2 separate regions of the Homo sapiens genome follow, and region 1 is linked to region 2. The links come from fine-mapping of genetic effects on gene expression. A gene starts in region 2. The other region holds a variant in brackets. All regions are shown on one strand. Distances are from middle to middle.

What was found.
Region 1: its variant is fine-mapped to the expression of SLC51A in tibial nerve (GTEx, PIP 0.93).

Annotation. Positions count from the first base shown.
Region 1 is chr3:196,236,741-196,239,698 of GRCh38, reverse strand. It overlaps PCYT1A (phosphate cytidylyltransferase 1A, choline), which reads left to right. Exons shown (of 9, transcript NM_001312673.2): 8 at 1-152; 9 at 805-2,958. The coding sequence ends at 1,011. Among named protein-coding and RNA genes, the nearest start is that of SLC51A, 22 kb to the right of the region's middle. The variant T/A (reference allele first, on the strand shown) is at 1,455.
Region 2 is chr3:196,215,469-196,218,192 of GRCh38, reverse strand. It overlaps SLC51A (solute carrier family 51 member A), which reads right to left and starts at 1,659. Exons shown (of 9, transcript NM_152672.6): 1 at 1,443-1,659; 2 at 257-351. The coding sequence starts at 1,480. All of the region lies in intron 2 of LOC105374304 (a long non-coding RNA gene), which reads left to right.

The DNA of each region.
Region 1 (2,958 bases), 21 kb before region 2:
TAAAGAAGAAAGTGAAAGATGTGGAGGAAAAGTCAAAAGAATTTGTTCAGAAGGTGGAGGAAAAAAGCATTGACCTCATTCAGAAGTGGGAGGAGAAGTCCCGAGAATTCATTGGAAGTTTTCTGGAAATGTTTGGTCCGGAAGGAGCACTGGTATGTTCTTTCCCACTGGACAATGTAGGGAGTTCCATGTTGTGGAAAGAATGACAGAATCATTGAGCAGGAAGGGGCATCGACACTGAGAAGTTATCTAGTCTATCCCCTTATCTGGGCAGAACTATCTTTCAACTGTCCCCAGCAAGGTTTTTGAAACCTTTACAGAAAGACGTTACACATTCTCCTAGATAATTTTGCCAGCTCTCTCTCAACCTTAAAGTCTGGTGACAAGATAAGCAAGTCGCCTTGCCCAGCTTTTATCTGTGGTATGATTTTAGATAGAAGGAAAGGAAAGAATAAAGAACAATAAAAAGAAAGCAGCCTCCACTACAAGTAGCTGCAGCAGGAACCCCAGGTAAGGTGGGAATTCTGTCTTTGAGGAGTAGCAGTCTTTTCAACCAAATAAAAGATTGAGCAAGTGAGTCCTAGGTTAGATATCAGGAAGGATCTGTCTGTGAAGGTGTTTGGATAAATTAGAATAATCCTAGACTAGATTATTGAGGAAGAATGGGGAATTTCCCGGGTGATGACAGCAGGGGAGAACCCTTAAATAAATAGTACAGCATAGACTATCCCAGTCCTAGATGCTTCAGTGATGATTAAGTAGGATCCACGGTGTTTTTCTGACTCTTCCTTTCGGTTTCTGCAGAAACATATGCTGAAAGAGGGGAAGGGCCGGATGCTGCAGGCCATCAGCCCGAAGCAGAGCCCCAGCAGCAGCCCTACTCGCGAGCGCTCCCCCTCCCCCTCTTTCCGATGGCCCTTCTCCGGCAAGACTTCCCCACCTTGCTCCCCAGCAAATCTCTCCAGGCACAAGGCTGCAGCCTATGATATCAGTGAGGATGAAGAAGACTAATGTTTCCTCCCTCCTTTCCTGTCCTCCCTTTCTGTCCCATTACCTTCAGAAGCTCTCTGTTGAATTCCAAATTGTGACCCCAACACTAAACCTAAGGACAGCTACAAAGGAAAGACAACTGGGGAAAGAAGACCTAGGACTGGGGGAACCCAAACAGCCTGTCCTGCAAGTGACATCACTCACCCACACGAAGGAGGGGGACTGCACCTTAGAAGCCTGCTCTGCATCCATTTACCCCCCCCCAAGGGCTTTGTTTCACTGTTTATGTTCACGTGATCTCAACAGGGAAATTGTCATTTTCATTAATTTTTTAAAAAATTCGTCTTTCAAATGTAGAACTAATTTTTTGCCCCTGAGGAGTGGGCAGAAGAAGGAGGTAGTGTAATACGCAGAGGCCTTTTCTTCCCGGTATACTATAGCATTTGCCTTCCGTTCTGAAGCTA[T/A]GTGGCTTGCCAAGTCCTTCACGAAATGAGCCACGCTGATGGGTAATTTGTGGAGAAATATCTTAATTTTGATTTCCTTAAGGAAAAGCGAAAAGCAGAGTTACAGTCACAAATCCCCTGAACGTACTGCTGTCACCAGTGTCATTGTGGCTGCGGGAAGGAGATCTGAACCTAACTTTTCTTACTCCCTGAGGAGTTTCTTGTTGGACCCAATGGGGTCCATGAAGACACTGATGGGGATGGAAGCAGACCCATGGCATCAACTGCAGTGTTTCTGCTGTGTTCATCTTCTCAGAAAACTCTGTGACCCAGTTCTTTGGGAGCTTTTGTCAGTCTCTTTCGTGCCATCTACCTTCGAAGGAAGGAACACTTTTAGAGTTACAATGATGAGGAGAGGAGCGGGACAATACTCAATCCTATACCAAGTCGATTGAGATTAGTTTCCTACTGGGAGTAAGTGCCTGGCCCTGCTACTCCTATTTGAATGCTATTAATATTACCTAGCCTTTTACAAAGGATACTTTGTAAATGTCTGCTGTTGGAACTTGATGTTAATCCATTTTGGTCATAGCCATATTAGAGAGATTTGCACAGAATGTAAAGGCAAAAGCATAGGAAACACCTTCCTTTCTAAAGCAACAGCCTTATCACCTTGACCTCTGTCCCTCTTCAGAACATTCTTCCCTGGAACCAGTGCTCCACATCTTTCTTTTCCTCTGAGAGCTGCAGCTGGCAGGGACCTCCCTCTGCTGCTCCTCCAGCAAGCCACAGAGCATACCCTCACGTGACAAGAGTGTGGTAGGTTTTCTCCCCACTTTTCACACACGCCTGGTGGTTGTGGTTCCATCTGCCTTGTTGGCTTGCCCGGGGGGATTCAACACTTGACTTTCAAATCAAAGAATGCTAATGCTTAGCACTTGCTGTTGAGCATGCTCTAACTTTTAAAGCCCTGGCCTCCTGTCTCCTTAGCTGCTTAGCTACGCGGCCTAGCAGATCATCACCCATCAGTAATCCTGTGGCTAGATCCAGGGGAAAATTGCTTATGTCCAGGCCCCACCCCTGTCACTCATAAATACCCCTTGTGGGGGTGGAATTTTAGTGTTTTCAGCTAAGAAAACCACATTTTCTCTTTCCTTGCCTCTGCTAGGACTGTGAGCATCTCATAGTCCACTCCCTAAACACTTTCTGGTAACACCTAGTTTTCCGCCTGAGGGTCAGAGGCTAGAATCATTGCCTGCACAGCAGGACTACCTTGGTTCTTAAAACTTGGATCACCCAGGCAAGGCGTGGTGGCTCACGCCTGTCATCTCAGCACTTTGGGAGACTGAGGCTGGTGGATCACTTGAGGCCACGAGTTTGAGACCAGCCTGACCAACGTGGTGAAACCCCATCTCTACTAAAAATACAAAAATTAGCCAGGCGTGGTGGTGGGCACCTGTAATCCCAGCTACTTGGGAGGCTGAGGCAGGAGAATCCCTTGAACCCAGGAGGCGGAGGTTGCAGT
Region 2 (2,724 bases):
TGAGCTTTGAGGCCAGTTTTGTGGAGGCCCAACATGACGGTTGCTCTCCGGAGCCAGGCTCTCATGCTACCCTTTTGACCCACTGACTCCTTGAGGCATTGCCCTTCTCCAGAGCCTTAACCACGATGACAGACACCGGGCCAGTTATTCTCCCCGGCTGCCCAGGTGCACCAGCTCAGGGCCGCCTCTCCCCAGCTCCACTCAGCTATCCTGGTTTCCCTCCTCTCAGTTCCCTCTGAGGAGGGTCCCCACTCACCTCTCAGGAGTTGGGCTGCTGTGGGAGGCTGAGAGAAGCAGGCGGAGGGGATGCCGTAATTGGTCTTCAGCACCTCCAGAAGATCTGCTGTGTACCTGGCGAGACACCAGCCTGTGCTCAGAACCATGGGGGCTGGGGGAAGGGGGAGGGTTGCACACTGGACCCTCAACCACTCCTGAGTGCAGGACTTTGTCCATTTCCCCTCAGGGCCTCTTTCTCTCTCTTTCTTTCTTTCCTTCCTTCCTTCCTTTCACTCTCTCTTTCTCTTTCTCTCTCCCTTCCCCTTCCCCTTCTCCTTCCTTCCTTCCTTCTGCTCTCTCTTTCTCTTTCTCTCTTCCTTCCCCTTCTCTTTCCTTCCTTCCTTCCTTCCTTTTTCTTTCTTTTTTTTTCTTTTTGAGACAGGGTCTTGCTCTGTTGTCCAGGCTGGAGTGCAGTGGTCTGTCTTGGCTCATACAGGCAGCCTTGACCTCCTGGGCTCAAGTGATCTACTCAACCCCCATCCCCATGAGTAAGCTGGGACTACAGGTGCACGCCACCAGGCCCGGCTAATTTTTTATATTTTTGGTAGAGACAGGATTTCGCCATGTTGCTCAGACACTGGTCTCGAACTCCAGGACTCAAACTGGAACTGGGCTTAAACTCCTGGACTCCCGCCTCAGCCTCCCAAAGTGCTGGGATTACAGGCGCCCGGCCTCAGGGCCCTTTTCTTAGAGGGAGTGGAGAACTGGCCCAGGTGGGGGAGTAAGACAAGCTGCCACCTAGCCAGGCTGTGCCTGGCTGCCGTGCCTGAAGAGCCCACCGTGGATTCTCTCCATGCGGGTCGGGCAGCAGCCCAGGGACTGACCAGAGAGGAAGAGCAGGATCCCAGAGGAAGGGTGAGTCCTTACAGACGGACGGGCCCCCTGCTGCTGAGGGATGCTGCCATTTCCTCTGCGAATGCCTTCCACAGCCCCCGCTCTGCGACCTTTCTCTCCCCACGCTGGGGGGCAAGGCCGAGGCCCTGGAGTGTCACACCCTGGCCCAAACCCACGTTGTCCCTGAGGACCTAGGAACAGCTAGAGCATTTCCAGTCCTGTCTCATTCTGAGTGCGGCCGCCAAAGGGCTCTGGGAGGGAGAGAGGACAGGCCGCGGGATAGGGGCCACCGCTGCCCAGCGACTGGCCCAGGGCCCGCCGCCCTCACTTACCTGGGGTCAAGCTTTATCTGGGTCCTGCCCGGCTCCATCGCCGCGTTCTCTCCAGCAATCCCGCAGGCACCGGGGTGAGGAAGGGCAGGCGGGGCGGGCAGGTGGGGGCCGGGGGCAGGGTGGCTTGCCTGGGCCGGGGTGGGGGGCAAGCAGAATTGCAGAGTCTTCCCCTCTGCCGCTCTCCCTCCTTGAGCTTCCCGGGCCAACTTTCTATCTCAGAGTTCACCCCGGAGGAATTTGATCCTCTAGGCTGGCGGAGTTCCCTGTGCCTGACTCGTCCCTGCCCCCAGGTGTGGTCCCTCCCACCTCTTGGACAGGTGCCTTTGGCCACCCCTTGCCTCTGGCCCGGCCCATCCTATAGGATTTTGCTGCCAGTCTGCCCTGCCCTTCCAGGAGCCTTCTGGGGTGGGGTGGGCTCACCACGAAGCCCCTGCCCTGGGCCGGGGTGGGGACGAAGTCCTCGCTCCTCACCGCAGTGTTCCCTGGTCAGCGGCCCCTGAAGAACCTGCTGGAACTCAGGCTTGGGCACTCTGCAGCGGGGAGACTCAGGGCTGAGGCCTCGGCCGTGTTTGGTGCTGTCAGCCTGATGTGTGGAAGGGAGGACAGGCTGGAAAAGCCAGATGAGGCCGGTGTGGGTTTCCCAGACCCCAGTTCATCACATCTGGATGATGGGCTTAGCCACCCCCACGCTGGGCCGGAAGATGCTGTATTTAAGAGGCAGAGTTGCAGAGTGAGATTGCTGGGCATTTGACAGGTCTTGAAAACCTGCTGAATTACAGGCTTGCAAACGATTTTATTGGCTGATAGCTTCCCTTTTCTCTCTCTCCACATAGACTGAAATCTCTTCGAAGCCAGACACAGCATCTTGTACTGTGGTACGGTGGTACCTCTAGGTTCCTGGCACGCAGCCTGACACATACGAAGGGCCCCTTAGAATTTGGTTGCATAGCTGATGAAAGCAGCCAGCGTCTGTCAGCATGTCTGGTGTGCCAGGGCCCGCAGGACATGCAGTGTGTTCCTTAGCTTATTTAAACTTTACCACCGCGTTACAAGGGAAGTAGTATCCTTATTCCCATTTTACAGATAAGGAGGCTGAGGTCCAGAGAGGCTAAGAAACCAGGTCAGACAGAAAGCTGTGGGGTGTGGAGAGCGGCCAAAGGGGCCTGGGGGAGGGGCTCTGTTGGGGCATGGTGGAGATGGAGGTAGTGAGAAGAGGGCCCAGGAGAGGGTGCAGAGGGTCAATTCTGGGAAGGGAGAGGGGGCTTCCTGCGCTGGGCTGGTG